Regions from separate parts of the Homo sapiens genome. Here region 1 is linked to region 2. Evidence: fine-mapped expression QTL. A gene starts in region 2. The other region holds a variant in brackets. All regions are shown on one strand. Distances are from middle to middle.

Region 1 (8,317 bases), 42 kb before region 2:
TTAGCGTGGTGGCTCACACCTGGAATTTTAGCACTTTGGGAGGCTGAAATGGGAGGGTCACTTGAGGCCAGGAGGTCGAGACCAGCCTGGGCAACATAGCGAGAGCCCATCTATGCAAAAAAAAAATTTTTTAAAGAAATTAGCCAGGCATAGTGGCACACATCTGTAGTCCCAACTACATGGGAGGCTGAGGCAGGAGGATCACTTGAGGCCAGGAGTTTGAGACCAGCCTGGCACGTACCAAGACCCCGTTCCTACAAAAAGAAAAAAATTAGCCAGGCCTGGTGGTGCACACCTATAGTCCCAGCTACCTGAAAGGCTGAGGCAGGAAGATCGCTTGAGCCCAGGAATTCCATGTTATAATGAGCTATGATTGCACCACTGCACTCCAGCCTGAATAATAGAGTGAGATCCTGTCTGTAGAAAAAGAAAGAAACTCAATAATCATATCAGTCAAGACTCTTTCAGTATAAAAGCAACCAGGCTTAAGTCAGGAAGAGGATTTTTTGGTGCCTGAAAATTGGAGAGGATTAGCTTTCAGCATGGCTAGATCCAGATAGACAGATGATGTTAAAAGGAAGATTTTTTTTTGTATCTTTTGGCTCTGCTTTTCTTCATGTTGGCTTTGCTGATGGACAGACTGTCCCTTTACTAGGGGAAAAGATACCCCCAGCAACTACAGGCTTATAAAACTCCATAGAGAATAGAACACCTCTTTCCTATAGTAGCTCAAGCAGAGTCTTAGGGTTGTGTGGCTCATGTTTCTGGTATCTGCTGTACCCACTTCTGAGCCAGTTGTTGTAGCTGTCCACATCTCAGCATGTGATCACTTCTGAGGGCAGAGACTGTAGTCAGCTCCATCCACTCACACCACCTGACCAGGCATCAAAGATGTGTTTGAGGCCGGGTGTGGTAGCTCACGCCTGTAATCCCAGCACTCAGGGAGGCCGAGGCGGGTGGATCACCTGAGGTCAGGAGTTCGAGACCAGCCTGGCCAACATGGTGAAACCCCATGTCTGCTAAAAATACAAAAATTAGCTGGGCGTGATGGCGTGCGCCTGTAATAGCAGCTACTTGGGAAGCTGAGACAGGAGAATTGCTTGAACCTGGGAGACGGAGGTTGCAGTGAGCTGAGACTGCGCCACTGCACTCCAGCCTGGGTGACAAAGCAAGACTCCGTCTCAAAAAATAAATGAACAAGTAAAAATAAATTGAATTATGTTGCGGATATTGTCCGGAATCTTTTTCCTCTGCAAAGTCTCTCATCTACCTGTATGTTGGTGAATACAAAGCAGACGCCTGCGAAATTTTAAGTTATTCCCCTCCAGGTGGCCATTTAGGTTTTTCCTGATTGCACATCACTGTTAATGAGGCTATGGAGTGGAGACCACTCCTAAGCCTCCTCGAAATGTGAGGACTTCTCCAGGAGAGAGTCTGAGGAGTAGCACCACTGGATCCTGGAGTTATTTTATTTTACTTTAAAAAAGTTGTTTTATTATTTTATTTCACTATTTTTGTTGCCCAGGCTGGAGTTCAATAGCACAATCATAGCTCACTGTAGCCTTGACCTCCTGGGCTCAAGCAATTTTCCCTCCTTAGCCTGTGGAGTAGCTGGGACCACAGGCTCAAGCTCCCACACCCAGCTAAATATGTGTGTATCAGGGGATGGTGTGTGTAGAGACAAGGTCTCACTGTGTTGCCCAGGCTGGTCTCAAACCCCTGGCCTGAAGTATCCTCCCACCTCGACCTCTCAAAGTGGTGGGATTACAGGCTTGAGCCAGTATGCCTGGCCTTTATTTTAAAAGAGAACCCCGGCTGGGCGCAGTGGCTCACACCTGTAATCCCAGCACTTTGGGAGGCCGAGGCGAGCGGATCACGAGTTCAGGAGATCGAGACCATCCTGGCTAACATGGTGAAACCCCGTCTCTACTAAAAATACAAAAAAAAAAAATTAGCCGGGCATGGTGGCGGGCACCTGTAGTCCCAGCTACTTGGGAGGCTGAGGCAGGAGAATGGCATGAACCCGGGAGGTGGAGGTTGCAGTGAGCCGAGATCGCGCCACTGCACTCCAGCCTGGGCAACAGAGCGAGACTCCGTCTCAAAAAAAGAAAAAAAAAGAGAACCCCAAGAGTTCTCCAAACCCAGTTACTGCCCCACCCTGCATTGCATTAGGCTCTCCATTGTCCCCACACTTTTCCTGCCATCCTTTGGTAGTATTAAGCTTTTTCACCTCGGTCAGTCTCGTGAGTCAAATATCGCATCCCACGGTTTAAGTTTGCATTTCCCTAACCCCCGGTGCTGTTGAGCCTTCTGACTTCTGGGTTGTGGTGTTGCCTCTTTGGGGACTGCCCGGTTATGTATGTGGCCTGTTTGTTGGGTTGTTTGTCCTCTTTTCATGGATTCTGTGTCTTTCCAGATCCTCGTTGCCTGCTAACCAACGGCAAGCTGCCACTGTGGGCAAAGCGGCTGGTAAGTCTTCAGGGAGAGGGTTGCTCAGGGGCTGGCAGAGGAAACGCCTCCCCAGCTCTGCCTTCTGGAAGCCCTTTTTCCTTTCCATGTCCCTCTTTTCCCTGGAGAAGCCCTGTCATCCTTCCAGGCTCAGTGAGACAGCCCTTTGTTCATGATCAGTGCTCTCTGCCAGGCATTGTTCTGGATGTCAGGGACACAACAGTGAGCAAGGGAAACAAAAGTCTCTCCCTTCACAGGCTCACTTGCCTGTGTGGGCGAGGAACAATATCCCCATTAAATAAGTAAATGACGTAGTAGGTTGGGTGCTGATAAGTGCTGTGGAGGGAAAAGAATCAAGAAGGAAAATACGTCAGCCAGGTGCAGTGATACGTGTCTGTGGTCCCAGCTACTCAGGAGGCTGAAGTGGGAGGATCACTTGAGCCCAGGAGGTTGAGGCTGTAGGGAACTGAGAAGGCACCACTACTACACTCCAGCGTGGGCAACAGAGTGAGATCCTGTCTCAAAAAAGAGAAAAAGAACAGGGGCCCAGCACGGTGGTTCATGCCTGTGATCCCAGCACTTTGGGAGGCCAAGGCAGGTTGATCACTTGAGCCCAGGAGTTCAAGACCAGCCTGAGCAATATAGTGAGACCCCATCTCTACAAAAAATAAAAAAATTAGCCAGGCATGGTGGTGCATACCTGTAGTCCCAGGTACTCAGGAGGCTGAAGTGGGAGGATTGTTTGGGCCAGGGAGGTCGAGGATGCAGGGAGCTGCACTCCACAGCACTCCAGCATGAGCAACAGAGCCAACACTTTGTCTCATAAAAAAAATAAAAATAAAAAAGAAAATAAGGAGTGTTGGGGGGTGTCAGTTTTAAGTAAACAGGAAAGGCCTCATTGGGAAAATGATGTTTGAGCAGAGTTGAAGCAAGTGAGACAGGCAGATACTGGGACGAATGTTCTAGTCATAACAGCCTATACGTGTAAAAGCCACGAGGCCAGGAGCTCGAGACCAGCTTAGGCAACATAATGAGACTCCCATCTCTACAAAAGATTAAAAATAGCCAGGCATGGTGGTGCACACCCATAGTCCCAGCTACTCAGGAGCCTGAGGCAGGAGGATCACTTCAGCCCAGGAGTTGGAGGCTGCAGTGATCGTGCTACTGCACTCCAGCTTGGATGGCAGAACGAGACCTTGTCTCTTAAAAAAAAAAAAAGAAAAAGAGACCGGGTGCGGTGGCTCACGCCTGTAATCCCAGCACTTTGGGAGGCCAAGGCGGGTGTAATCCAAGGTCAAGAGATCAAGATCATCCCGGTCAACATGGTAAAACCCCGTCTCTACTAAAAATACAAAAATTAGCTGGGCATGGTGGTGCATGCCTATAGTCCCAACTACTGGTAAGGCTGAGGCAGGAGAATCACTTGAACCCAGGAGGCAGAGGTTACAGTGAACCGAAATCATGCCACTGCACTCCAGCCTGGCGACAGAGTGAGACTCCCTCTCAAAAAAAAAAAAAAAGAAAGACAATGTGGATTATAAGAGACAGAATAAGAGAGGTGAATGAAGGATGATCCCAAGGTTGGGGCATGAGTAACTGGAAAAAACAACTGAAACAGGGAATCTTTAGGAGGAGCAGGTTTGTGCAGAGGAAATGAGTTGAGTTGTCAGCATGTTAACTTTGAAATACCTACCAGACATCCATACAGAAATGTAGAGCAGTCACATGTGCAATTCTGAAGTTTCAGAGAAAAGTTCATGAATCCCAGCTGGGCATTCCCAGCACTTTGGGAGGCCGAAACAGGATTCCTTGAGCCCAAGGGTTTGAGACCAGCCTGAGCAACATAGTGAGAGTCCACCTCTACCAAAAACCAACAAAATGGGCTGGGCGCAGTGGCTCATGCCTGTAATCCCAGTACTTTGGGAAGCCGAGGCGGGCGGATCACTTGAGGTCAGCAGTTTGAGACCAGCCTGGCCAACATGGCAAAACCCCATCTCTACTAAAAATACAAAAATTAGCCAGGTGTGGTGGTGGGCACCTGTAATCCCAGCTACTCTGGAGGCTGAGACAGGAGAATTGCTTGAAACTGAGAGGTGGAGGTTGCAGTGAGCCAAGGTCACGCCACTGCACTCCAGCCTGGGAGACAGAGCAAGACTTCGTCTCAAAAAAAAAAAAAAAAAAAAAAACAGAGAAAGGTTCACGCTGGAGATATGTACCTGGAAGTTGTTTCTGAATGGTATTGAAAGCCAAGAGTCCAGATGGGCTGTGTGAAATGTCCGTGTCGCTCCCTGCAGTGAGTGAGCACTCAGCCAGTTGCCTGACTGTCCGATATCCTTCAAGCTAGGGGACGATGATGTGGCAGATGGCT[T/C]GGCCTTCCACGCCAAGCGCAGCTACCAGCCCCACGGCCGCTGGGCAGAGCGGGCCGGCCAAGAGCCCCTCAAGACCATCCTGGATGCCCAGGACCTGGATTGCTACTTTACCCCCATGAAGCCCGAGAGTCTGGAGAACTCCATTCTGGATTCACTGGAGCCACAGAGCCTGGCCAGCCTGCTGAGTGAGGTACACACTTCCACCGCAGCCTGGCCCATAGCCCCGGCACCGTGACGGCCCCAGGGCCTGGCGCCTTAGGCTGACTCCCACTCCATGGGGGCAGGGAGGATTACATGAGATGGTGAAGGGCAGGAGGGTGAGCCCCAGGTCTGTTGCACAGCAAGACTTCCCAAGGCAGACAGGGAGTCTTTGGAAAGTGGGTCACTTGGGGGTTAAGAGCTTGGATGCTAGAGCAGGCTTGTACCCAAGTGGGGGACATTTGGGTAGATCGAGCCCTGACCCTACCCATTCCTGTTGTGTGACCTGGAGTAAGAGGCTTACCTCTTTGGGCTTCAGTCTTCTAAAAAGTAGTCATAATGGGGTCAGGGGCAGTGGCTAACACCTGTAATCCCAGCATTTGGGGAGGCCAAGGCAGGAGGATTACTTAACGATCACTTGAGGAGTTCAAGGCCAGCCTAGGCAACGTAGCAAGATCCCACCTCTACAAAAATATTTTTTAAATTTTTTTGTTTGTTTTGTTTTTAAATGGTAATAACAATCTCTTCTGCCCCAGAGGGCTTTTACAGGAATCCATGCTTAAGTATAGGGCCTGGGCTCTTAGAGGTGCCCGTGCAACTTTAGCTCTTTCTCTACTATTTTCCAAACAAAATTCATTTTTATCCTATCCTATAATTTGTCATCTTCATTGTGGTATAATATACATCCAGTAACATGCACAGATTTTAGGTATACAGCTTGATGAACTATCTGTGTAATTCACGTGTGTCCACTACCCTGGGCAAAATCTGGAGTGTTTTCTACCTCATAGAAACCCCCTTCTGCCCTTCCCAGTCAGGTCCCCGCACCAGGATAACCAGTGTTCTGACCTCTCACCAAGGACTGGGTTTCCTATTCTTGAACTTGATATAAATAGACACGTAGAGGGTTGGGCCTCCTATTTTTGGTGCCACACCTCTTCCTCATCTGTAAAGGGACTGATAATGCAGGGGCAGACCAGGACAAGCTGGTTGCGAGTGGAGGGCATGGCACAGGCCCTGGTTCACAGCCTCCAGCAGTGGGGCTGCTGGCATGGTTCCTGGCGCACTGTTGGTGGCCCCAGCCATGCCTGCCTCAGAATGGCTGTGCTGTCTTCCCCATAGTCAGAGAGTCCCCAGGAAGCTGGCCGCGGGCACCCCTCCTTCCTGCCCCAGCAGAAGGAATCATCTGAGGCCAGTGAGCTCATCCTCTACTCTCTGGAGGCAGAAGTGACAGTCACAGGGACAGACAGGTGGGTGTCCTTTCCACCAAGGGAGCCTTAGTTGGAGGAACCCCCAGCTGATAGCTGCATCCTGGAAGAAGTGCTCTCTGCCTTCCCAGTGGGCTTGTGGGAGTGGGGACAGTTGAGGCCTGGATGGGGCAGGAGCCCAGCCTTAGTTCCCTGGTTCCAGGTGGGGTACAGGAGGGCCTGACCTGGGGGAAGGAGGGGGCATTTGGAGGAGGCGGGGAGGCTGTCGCAGTGCTCCTGCAGGAGCAGCGGGTACAGGTGCCTAGGGGCTCCGGGTGGGGCTAGCTGTTGAGTCTCCAGCTGAAGTCCTTGTTCCCTCTCTGCCCCCACTGGCACTGCAGCCAGTATTGCAGGAAGGAGGTGGAGGCCGGGCCTGGAGACCAGCAGGGCGACTCCTACCTCAGGGTGTCCTCCGACAGCCCAAAGGACCAGAGCCCGCCTGAGGGTGAGTGCAGGGCAGGCAGGGACCCTGTGACAGTCTGTGCGTTCAGCCAAGCCCCTTTCTGGGCACCGATGGTGACTTTGACCCAGTACTGAAGCTCAGAGTCTGTCGAGGAAGACACATGTGGTCCCTGCTGCTGCCTGAGGATTCTGGGCCCAGCTGCCTACAGCTGAGAGCCCAGCTCTGCCACCTCCTTGATGTGGAACTTCCCTTATTCATAAAATGGGGGGCAGCTGCTCTTACCATCCCTCCTCCAGATGGGGAAACTGAGCCCAGGGAAGGGTAGCCCTGGCCCTGGCTCACCAGAATGGTCAGGCTGTGGGCTCCTGACCCCGACTCTGTCCTTCAGACTCGGGGGAGTCAGAGGCCGACCTGGAGTGCAGCTTCGCAGCCATCCACTCCCCAGCTCCGCCTCCTGACCCTGCCCCTCGGTTTGCCACGTCGCTGCCCCATTTCCCAGGTAAGCAGGGGCCAGACACGCAGGGGACTCGCTGCTCGGGCCTGGCTTAGGGCCAGTCACAATGTCTAAGCACAGGCCCTGCACTTGGAGCCCACTGAGCCTGGAAGACGGGGATCCCTGCTTCTCAGCCTGCGGGCAACAGGGCAGGGATGGGTGGGGCCCGCTTTCTCCATTTCAGGTGGCGTCTGCTGTGACTCATGGTGTTGGCTCCTCTTGTCCCTCCCCTCCTTCCCTGTCAGGATGCGCAGGTCCCACAGAAGATGAGCTGTCCCTGCCCGAGGGACCCAGCGTCCCCAGCAGCTCCCTACCCCAGACTCCGGAGCAGGAGAAGTTCCTCCGCCACCACTTTGAGACACTGACTGAGTCCCCCTGCAGAGGTAGGGCCCTGCCTCACCCACACCTGCCGAGGCCGTCTGTGCAGCCTGGGCACAGCATTGGCGTCCCTGGAGTTGGCTCCCCAGCAGGGCCAGGAGGGTGAGTGGAGAGCAACTGCTTCGTTTTTTTTGAGACGGAGTCTCGCTCTGTTGCCAGGCTGGAGTGCGGTGGCCCAATCTTGGCTCACTGCAACCTCCGACTCCCTGGTTCAAGCAATTCTCCTGCCTCAGCCTCCTGAGTAGCTGGGATTATAGGCATCCACAACCACGCCCTGCTAATTTTTTGTATTTTTAGTAGAGATGAGGTTTCACCATGTTGGCCAGACTGGTCTCAAACTCCTGCCTCAGATGATCTGCCCGCCTTGGCCTCCCAAAGTGCTGGGATTACAGGCGTGAGCCACCGTGCCCGGCCCACTGCTTCACTCTTGACCTGAGCCTCACGATGCCTCCTCACCCACTGCCCCTGCTCGTACCCTGTGTCTGTACATAAGGGTTTCTGGGGAGTGCCCCGCTGGGCTGTGGGCTGGCCTAGGGCCAGGGCTGCTCGGCGGGAAGGGTTATGAGGGTCCCCTCGGGATCTTCCCCTAGAGCTCTTCCCCGCAGCTCTGGGAGACGTGGAGGCCTCTGAAGCTGAAGACCACTTCTTCAACCCACGCCTGAGTATCTCCACGCAGTTCCTCTCAAGCCTCCAGAAGGCATCCAGGTAGAAGCTGGCCAAGCACTGCCCACCCTCTGGCTCCTCAACAGTGCCCCAGGGCAGGCTGAATGAGAATCATCCC
Region 2 (8,323 bases):
CATGTAGGGGAGGCACCCCATGGCATGAGTGGTACAGAGAGGAGGATAGAGACCTAACACCTGGGGCTGCCGGGAATAAGGGGTTGGGGGCCAGAACTAGATGACAATATGGTTACGATTGGCAGTGAGTGCCATGAGAAAGTACAAGTCATTTTGAAAGCATATAACTGGAAGCCTCACCTAGTCTCAGGTTGGGTGGAGACAGGGAGGTCTTTCTGGAAGAGATGACTCCTGAGGTGACACCTGCAGCCTGAGTAGCTACACAATCAGGCCAGAAAAAAAAAGGCAGCAGGGGAGTTCCTGGCCGAGGGCATGAGGGCTGGCAGCAAGTGAGCCTCGGGAGAGGGCAGAGAGCTGGAGCAGTCAGTCTGGCAGGGAGGGGTGTGGTGAGAAGGGAATCTGGATTAGTCATCACCAAAAGATCTGTGCCAAGCCCGGGTTCAGATCTGGTTCTGCCACCCTCCGTGACCCTGCCTTTCAGAATCTCCATTCTCTCTCCTGCCCTGCAGACAAGGCTTGTGTAGCAGTTACCTTGGCCTGGCCCCAGCAAGGCCTCAGGAAACATCAGCTGCAACTAGTTTTGTCTGTTGTGATGTTGTTATTTGACCTATTATATTAATTATATTATTAACGCATAAGGGTAGTGGTTAAGGATACAGGCTAGGGAGAGTGACTGCTTGGGTTTAACCTCAGAGTCGGTTTACTTATCTGTAAAATGGGGATAATAAATAGCATCTATGTCACAGGGCTGTTAGGAGAACAAGGGAACTGATGGACGTCAAGCACTTGGAGGAGTGGTTGATGGTTACTTGTTTTTGTATCTTTTTTTTTTTTTTGAGACAGTTTCGCTCTTGTTGCCCAAGCTAGAGTGCAATGGCACGATCTCGAGTCACTGCAACCTCTGCCTCCCGGGTTCAAGCGATTCTCCTGCCTCAGCCTCCCGAGTAGCTGGGATTACAGGCACACGCCACCACGCCTGGCTGATTTTTTGTATTTTTAGTAGAAACAGGATTTCACCATGTTAGTCAGGGTGGTCCCAAACTCCTGACCTCAGTGATCTGCCCACCTCGGCCTCCCAAAGTGCTGGGATTACAGGCGTGAGCCACCACACCTGGCCTGTTTTTGTACTATTTAAGGAAGACTAAGAGTCTACCAGCTGAGGAATACAGCTGGCCTCGAGGCTGAGGGAACAGCATGAGCACAGACACAGAGCTAATGGGGGCATTTACAAAGCATTTATCACCAATTTATTTATTTATTTATTGGAGACGGAGTTTCACTCTTGTTGCCCAGGCTGGAGTGCAATGGTGCAATCTTGGCTCACTGAAACCTCTGCCTACTGGGTTCAAGCGATTCTCCTGTCTCAGCCTCCCGAGTAGCTGGGATTACAGGTATGCACCACCACATCCGGCTAATTTTGTATTTTTTAGTAGAGACAGGGTTTCTCCATGTTAGTCAGACTGGTCTCGAACTCCCGACCTCAGGTGATCTGCCCGCCTCAGCATCCCAAAGTCCTGGGGTTATTGGCATGAGCCACTGTGCCCAGTATTTATTTGAGACAGAGTCTCGCTCTGTCACCCAGATTGTAGTGCAGTGGCATGATCTCGGCTCACTGCAACCCCCGCCTCCTGGGCTCTGGTGATCCCCCCACCTCAGTCTCTAGAGTAGCTGGGACTAGGCGCATGCCACCACATTCAGCTAATTTCTGTATTATTTGTAGAGACAAGGTCTCACTATATTGCCCAGGCTGGAGTCAAACTCCTGGGCTCAAGAGATCCTCCTGCCTCAGCCTCCCAAAATGCAGGGAATACAGGCATGAACCACTTCACCCAGCCACCACTTAAGTTTTTTTTTTAATAATCAGTATTGCTGCAGATATCATTTAATTTTGATAGGGGGCCTAGTGGTATGGAGCAACCCATGTTCCCATTTTACAGATGAGAAAATCGCTGCTCAGGAATATCAAGCCACTCTTTTGGGGTTGTGCAGTTATTACAGGGCACAGCCAGGATTCAACTCAAGCCTAGCCAGCCTGCAGGGTAGGGGATAAGAGCCAGCCAGCCTGCCTGGGGGCCAGATTTAGCTCCCCCCGATGAGTCCTGAAAAAGTACTGGACTCCCGTGGCTCATGCCTGTAATCCTAGCACTTTGGCAGGCCGAGGCAGGTGGATCACCTAAGATCAGGAGTTTGAGACCAGCCTGGCCAACATGGTGAAACCCCGTCTCTACTAAAAATACAAAAATTAGCTGGGTGTGGTGGTGCATGCCTGTAATCCCAGCTACTCGGGAGGCTGAGGCAGGAGAATCGCTTGAACCTGGGAGGCAGAGACTGCAGTGAGCTGAGATGGCGCCACTGCACCCCAGCCTGGGCAACAGAGCAAGACGCTGTCTCAAAACAAAAAAAAAAAAAAAGAAAAGAAAAGAAAAGAAACCAGGCTATGTAAAAATATTATTGTAAAAAATTAAATTAAATCAAAAAAAGGCCGGTAGCCCATACCTGTAATCCCAGTACCTCACAGTACTTTGGGAGGCTGAGGCAGGAGGACGGCTTGAGGCCCGGAGTTCAAGAGCAGCCTGGGCAACATAGCGAGACCTCCGTCTCTATTATGTAAAAACAATAATATTTTTTAAGTAAATAAAGAAACCAGGCCGTGGCCAAAGGAATCTTCCTGTGTCTGGGGCCTTCTTTAGAGGCTAGCATACTGAGGACACTCTTTGGGCCAGTCCAGGAAGGAATGATTCTGGTGGCCCCTGACTGGGGCGGGGGCGTGGTAAGGTTCGCCTGGGAGGCGGCGCAGGCGCTGCCTGCGGTTTGACTGCCATCCGGGCTGCTGCAGGCACTGGGAAAGGCAATCCAGCCTCAATCCTCGCCACAGACACGGGCGACTGTCCCCCAGCGTGTGAGTCAAACCATACTCCAGGCCTCCAGGAGGTGTTTGTCGCGACAACACCTGCAGAGGGCCCGTGCGGAGTCCCTTAGTGAGCGGACCGAAAACCGCCACCCTGGAAGGATATTGGCATGCCCTAGGGTGAAAATTCACACTACGACACTCGGGGGGTGGGTCCCCTCCGAGTTCTCGTCCGCGGGTGCCTCCACCCAGACCTGAGGGGTGTCGGGAAGACCCCCGCCTACCGAGTCAGGGCGGGATTAAGACCTCCGGCGCTGGAAACGCGTAGGGCGGGGCCCAGACCTGGATCCAGCTAGCCGGGCGGTGTGGGGTGCGCATGCGCAATGTCCGCTTCGGCTCTAGGACCGCGCGGGCGACAGCAGGGCCGCGGTGCAGTGTCCGACCCGAGAGTTGCGGCCTGAGTCACCGGCCCCGCCCTCCGGAGCCGGACGCTGCGGGAGGCCCGGGAGCGGCAGTGGAACCGACTCCCAGAACTCCGGACGTGTGCGGCGGTAAGCGCCCGGCCCGTACCCCCTCCGCACCCCGCAACTCCGACTTTGGCGGCCCCCAGACCCGGCGAAACCGTGAAGTCTCGGCCTCAGGAGCCCCCCAGATCCATGGTCTCAGATTCGAACCCTCAGACCTGTTCGATCTCCTTTTATGCCGTCCCGGGGACCCTTCTCCACCCTCTGTCTCATGATCCAAAATACAGGCCCATAGGTTTCAGAGATACCCTGTGAATTCTTCCTTGGGGTGTCCTGAACCGCGATCGTAGATCTGTGCCCCCAGTTCCAGCGGGGAACCCCATTGTCCGGGAACCCAGAGCTCACAGCCACGATCTTAGACCCGAGCCCACAGAGCCAGAGGTGACACTGGAATCCTGCCGCTGGGAATACCTAAATTCTCAAGCCCACATTTGGGATTTCCTAAACCCCGCCCTGGGGCCCTTTAGGCCGTGGATGTTTGCTCCGCGCCCATGACCTGCCAAGGACCTCTACATTCAGGCTGGGCTCTGGATCTCACATTCTAGCGCCCAGACATGTCGGGAACGCCTTACGCCAACTTGGGGTCCCCACCAAGAGAACCCCCACCAGATCTGCACCCTCCCCTTCACGCGTGCACCCAGTCCAGGCTCCCTCAAGCCCCACGGGTGCCTTTTAGACCTGAGGAGGTTGCAAACCTGATCCCCCATACCTGCCCCACCCATCCGCGGACAACCCGCCCTCGCAAACTCAGACCCCCACCCGGAGGCTTCAGATTCCTCCCAGGTCCAGCTGCCGGAAATGCGTGTTTGAAGGGAGGGTGTGGGCTCAGGGGCGAAGCACCCACTGGTCCCCTTTTTTCCCCCCAGCAGTGAGTCGCAGCCATGTTCCTGGTTAACTCGTTCTTGAAGGGCGGCGGCGGCGGCGGCGGGGGAGGCGGGGGCCTGGGTGGGGGCCTGGGAAATGTGCTTGGAGGCCTGATCAGCGGGGCCGGGGGCGGCGGCGGCGGCGGCGGCGGCGGCGGCGGTGGTGGAGGCGGCGGTGGCGGTGGAACGGCCATGCGCATCCTAGGCGGAGTCATCAGCGCCATCAGGTAAGGCGGAGACTATCAGAGGGGCGGGGCCTGGGAATGGGAGGAGCCTCAGTGAGGCGTGGTCTGGGAGGGGCGTGGTCTAAAAATAGAATAGGATTAACCTGGAGGCTAACCTGGGTACATGAATTAGGCCGGGGAGGCCTGGTTTGAGAGTTCTGCTGTAAGGGGGTGGACCCCAGTGAGGCGGATATCAGTCATTGGGGGCGGTGCTTGATATGGGAGTAGTCTGATTGTGTGGGACCAGGACAATGTGGTCCTGAGGGGACTGATGTGGAGTTTTGGCGGGTGGGGCTTATGGGTCTGGGCTCAGCCTGCATTGGCTAACCTGGAGATGAACGTTAAAGGTGCGGAGCCAATGCGTCTGAGTGACATTTTACGGAAGGGGCTTGACTTATGAGTGTGGTCAGAGGTTTTAGGTGGGTTAATGAGGAGGTGAGCCCAGGAGGAAGCAAGACCTAATGGGGTAGGGTAAATGGCCCAGAATGGGCTGGGCTTGCTGGGAACTGGCTGGATTAATGGAGAAAAATGCCCTGGTAGGGATAGGGCAGGTTGGCTTAATTAGCCACGGCCACTTAGCAGTGATCCCTTGAAGGGGCGGGGACCAATGGCTGGGGTAGGATGTTGGGAAGACGGGCATTTAGGAAGCGGGCCATGGAGTAGGGTCTTGGGCAGATGGCACCTGAGGAGGATAAGGCCTTGGGAAGCTGGGGCAGAGCCTCTATGAAGTGAGCCCTCCAAGGGGCGGGGTCTTTTGATTCTACGTGGGATTTTTTAGGTTTAGGGTGGCCAAGATGACTGAAATCTGCCACTGGGTAGGTGTGCCTGGCAGGAGGGGAGCCTCCCAGGGGACCGGTCTCTGGGTTTCCTCGAGGGTGGGGTTGGCCTGAGGAAGGGAGAAGAGGGGCACGACCAGGGCAGTGTGGATTGGGACAGATGAGGACAAGAACAAATGAAAGGCACAGCAACCAAGTAAGGAAGATAACGGCTGGGGTCTGGAGCGTTGGGGCTGATGGTTCTGTAGTGCTGCCCGTTGGAGGCCCCGCCCCTGGCACTAACCCCTCCCCCTTATCTCTTCGCAGCGAGGCGGCTGCGCAGTACAACCCGGAGCCCCCGGTAAGCCCCCTCTGCAACCAGACCCCCTTCTCCTGCCAAGGCCTCTTCGAGGTCCCATCCCTGTTCCTGTAGAGAAGCCCCACCTTCCTCCCCTTCTTGTGAAATTCCTCTGCCAGTTCCTCCCATGCCGTGTCTGCAGCTTCGCCATGGGTCTTAGCCATGCCCCACATACGTGCACCCCATTCACTACCACCCCTCATTCTTTTCCTCATCAAGCTGCCCAGCCCACTCTGACTTCCCCACCCAGGGTACCTGGGTTTGGGGAGCCGTCCTGGCCGGGTTCCCCTCCCCCTGCTCTGAGCTCTCCTCCCTTTGCAGCCCCCACGCACACATTACTCCAACATTGAGGCCAACGAGAGTGAGGAGGTCCGGCAGTTCCGGAGACTCTTTGCCCAGCTGGCTGGAGATGTAAGTAACCTGGGGTCCCTGGCCCCGTCCTAACCGTTCCATCCCTTCCCTTGTGGCTGCCCTTGCACACACACCCTTGACCATGACAATCCCAGTGTTCCCATTCTCCATGACATTCTCAGACCCCTTTCAGTCACCCCTGACCTGCCCCTAACTTCCGCCCGCAGGACATGGAGGTCAGCGCCACAGAACTCATGAACATTCTCAATAAGGTTGTGACACGACGTAAGTGACCGGGGTTAAGGAATAGGGTAGATTCAGAGGCAGAGGGGTCAGAGAGGATTTGACCTCTGGCCTCTGACTTTCAACCTGTTACCCACAGACCCTGATCTGAAGACTGATGGTTTTGGCATTGACACATGTCGCAGCATGGTGGCCGTGATGGATGTATCCTTGGGGGCAGTGTGGGAGAGGCCCTGGGTGGACAGAGAGTTTTTTGAGAGTATGTTTGGGAAGCCAACATGTAGCTTTCATATCCACAGATGTGGAAATGCATTCATCAGAACACAGTCACCTGCAGACATGTGGCGGTAAATCATAACAATGCCAGCTGTCACAGCTGGCACTTTAATTATATAAAGTGACCGAACCGTCATAACCACCCTGTTGGACAGGCACAATTATTATATTCCATTTTACAGAAGAGGAAACTGAGGCTCAGTTTCCTGAAAGAAGCAGTCATTTGTCTCAAGTTATAGATAAAGGTCAGGCATGGTGGCTCATGCCTGTAATCCCAACACTTTGGGAGGCTAAGGTGGGCAGATCACCTGAGGTCAGGAGTTTGAGACCAGCCTGGCCAACATGGTGAAACCCCATCTCTATTAAAAATACAAAAATTGGCCAGGCACGGTGGCTCACACCTGTAATCCCAGCACTTTGGGAGGCCGAGGCGGGCGGATCACGAGATCAGGAGATTGAGACCATCCTGGCTAACACAGTGAAACCCTGTCTCTACCAAAAAAAAAAAAAAAATTAGCCGGGCGTAGTGGCGGGCGCCTGTAGTCCCAGCTATTCGGGAGGCTGAAGCAGGAGAATGGCGTGAACCCGAGAGGAGGAGCTTGCAGTGAGCCGAGATCGCGCCACTGCACTCCAGCCTGGGCGACAGAGCCAGACTCTGTCTCAAAAAATAAAATAAAAATAAAAATAAAAATAGGCCGGGCGCCGTGGCTCACGCCTGTAATCCCAGCACTTTGGGAGGCCGAGGCGGGCGGATCACGAGGTCAGGAGATCGAGACCATCCTGGCTAACACGGTGAAACCCTGTCTCTACTAAAAATACAAAAAAATTAGCCGGGTGCAGTGGTGAGCGCCTGTAGTCCCAGCTACTCGGGAGGCTGAGGCAGGAGAATGGCGTGAACCTGGGAGGCGGAGCTTTGCAGTGAGCCGAGATCGCGCCACTGCACTCCAGCCTAGGCGACAGAGAGAGACTCCGTCTCAAAAAAAAAAAAAAAGAAAAAAAAAGAAAAATAACAATAACAAAAATTAGCTGGGCGTGGTGGTGCACGCCTGTAGTCCCAGCTACTCGGGAGTCCCAGCTACTCAAGCAGGAGAATTGCTTGAACCCGGGAGGCGGAGGTTGCAGTGAGCAGAGGTTTCGTCACTGCACTCCAGTCTGTGGACTCAGGTCTTTTGGGCTTGAGAACCCACGTTTATAACAGCCACATGCGCATATACACACACACACACCTAAGAGCACACCCACATACGTGAAGGTGTATGAGGCAGTGTGCACAGGGACACACGTGTTATCTGTACATGGGCCAGCCATTAGCTGATCTTGGATACATGCATATTTTTATTTATTTTTGTTTTAAAAAATATTTTATAGAGAAAAGCTTTCACTATATTGACCTGGCAAGTCTCAAACTCCAGACCTTAAGCAATCCTTCCGCCTTGGCCTCCCAAAGTGTTGGGATTACAAGCTTGAGACACTGCGCCTGGCCTCATGCACATTTAACACATAGGGCAAACAGACACATACATAATATACATGTCATGTAATCACAGACATATTGCATAGAGCAAAGCAATCCCAACTCTACCTCTTAACCAGGTTATTGAACCGCTCTGTGCCTCAGTTTCTCTCTCTGTAAAATGGGTGAGTGATAATGGTGATACCGAATCGGAACTACATCCAAAAGGTTTAGCACAGTGTATAGCGCATAGTATGTGGTCTGTACACATTAGCTCTTAACTATGATCTTGGGTAGAGTTTTCAGCTTTGAATGTTTTCTTCTCTGGAAATAGTCCTGGTAGAACTGGTGTCCCAAGGATTTAGTGAGAAAGTGATGTTCCTGAGTGGACATCAGGTGGATCCTGAGTTCAAGCGATCCACCTGCCT

The links. PIP is the estimated chance that this variant, and not a neighbour inherited with it, causes the effect.
Region 1: its variant is fine-mapped to the expression of CAPNS1 in whole blood (INTERVAL, PIP 0.98).

What each region holds. Positions count from the first base shown.
Region 1 is chr19:36,094,611-36,102,927 of GRCh38, forward strand. WDR62 (WD repeat domain 62) reads left to right here. Exons shown (of 32, transcript NM_001083961.2): 21 at 2,417-2,469; 22 at 4,789-5,007; 23 at 6,138-6,265; 24 at 6,604-6,707; 25 at 7,054-7,164; 26 at 7,404-7,541; 27 at 8,127-8,241. Among named protein-coding and RNA genes, the nearest start is that of OVOL3, 12 kb to the right of the region's middle. RefSeq lists an enhancer at 5,997-6,498. The variant T/C (reference allele first, on the strand shown) is at 4,817.
Region 2 is chr19:36,136,759-36,145,081 of GRCh38, forward strand. It overlaps CAPNS1 (calpain small subunit 1), which reads left to right and starts at 3,308. Exons shown (of 11, transcript NM_001749.4): 1 at 3,308-3,399; 2 at 4,239-4,462; 3 at 5,542-5,575; 4 at 5,894-5,983; 5 at 6,151-6,208; 6 at 6,306-6,370. The coding sequence starts at 4,254. LOC105372385 (a long non-coding RNA gene) reads right to left here and starts at 3,224. Exons shown (of 3, transcript XR_935954.3): 1 at 3,133-3,224. RefSeq lists enhancers at 3,575-3,624, 3,715-3,774.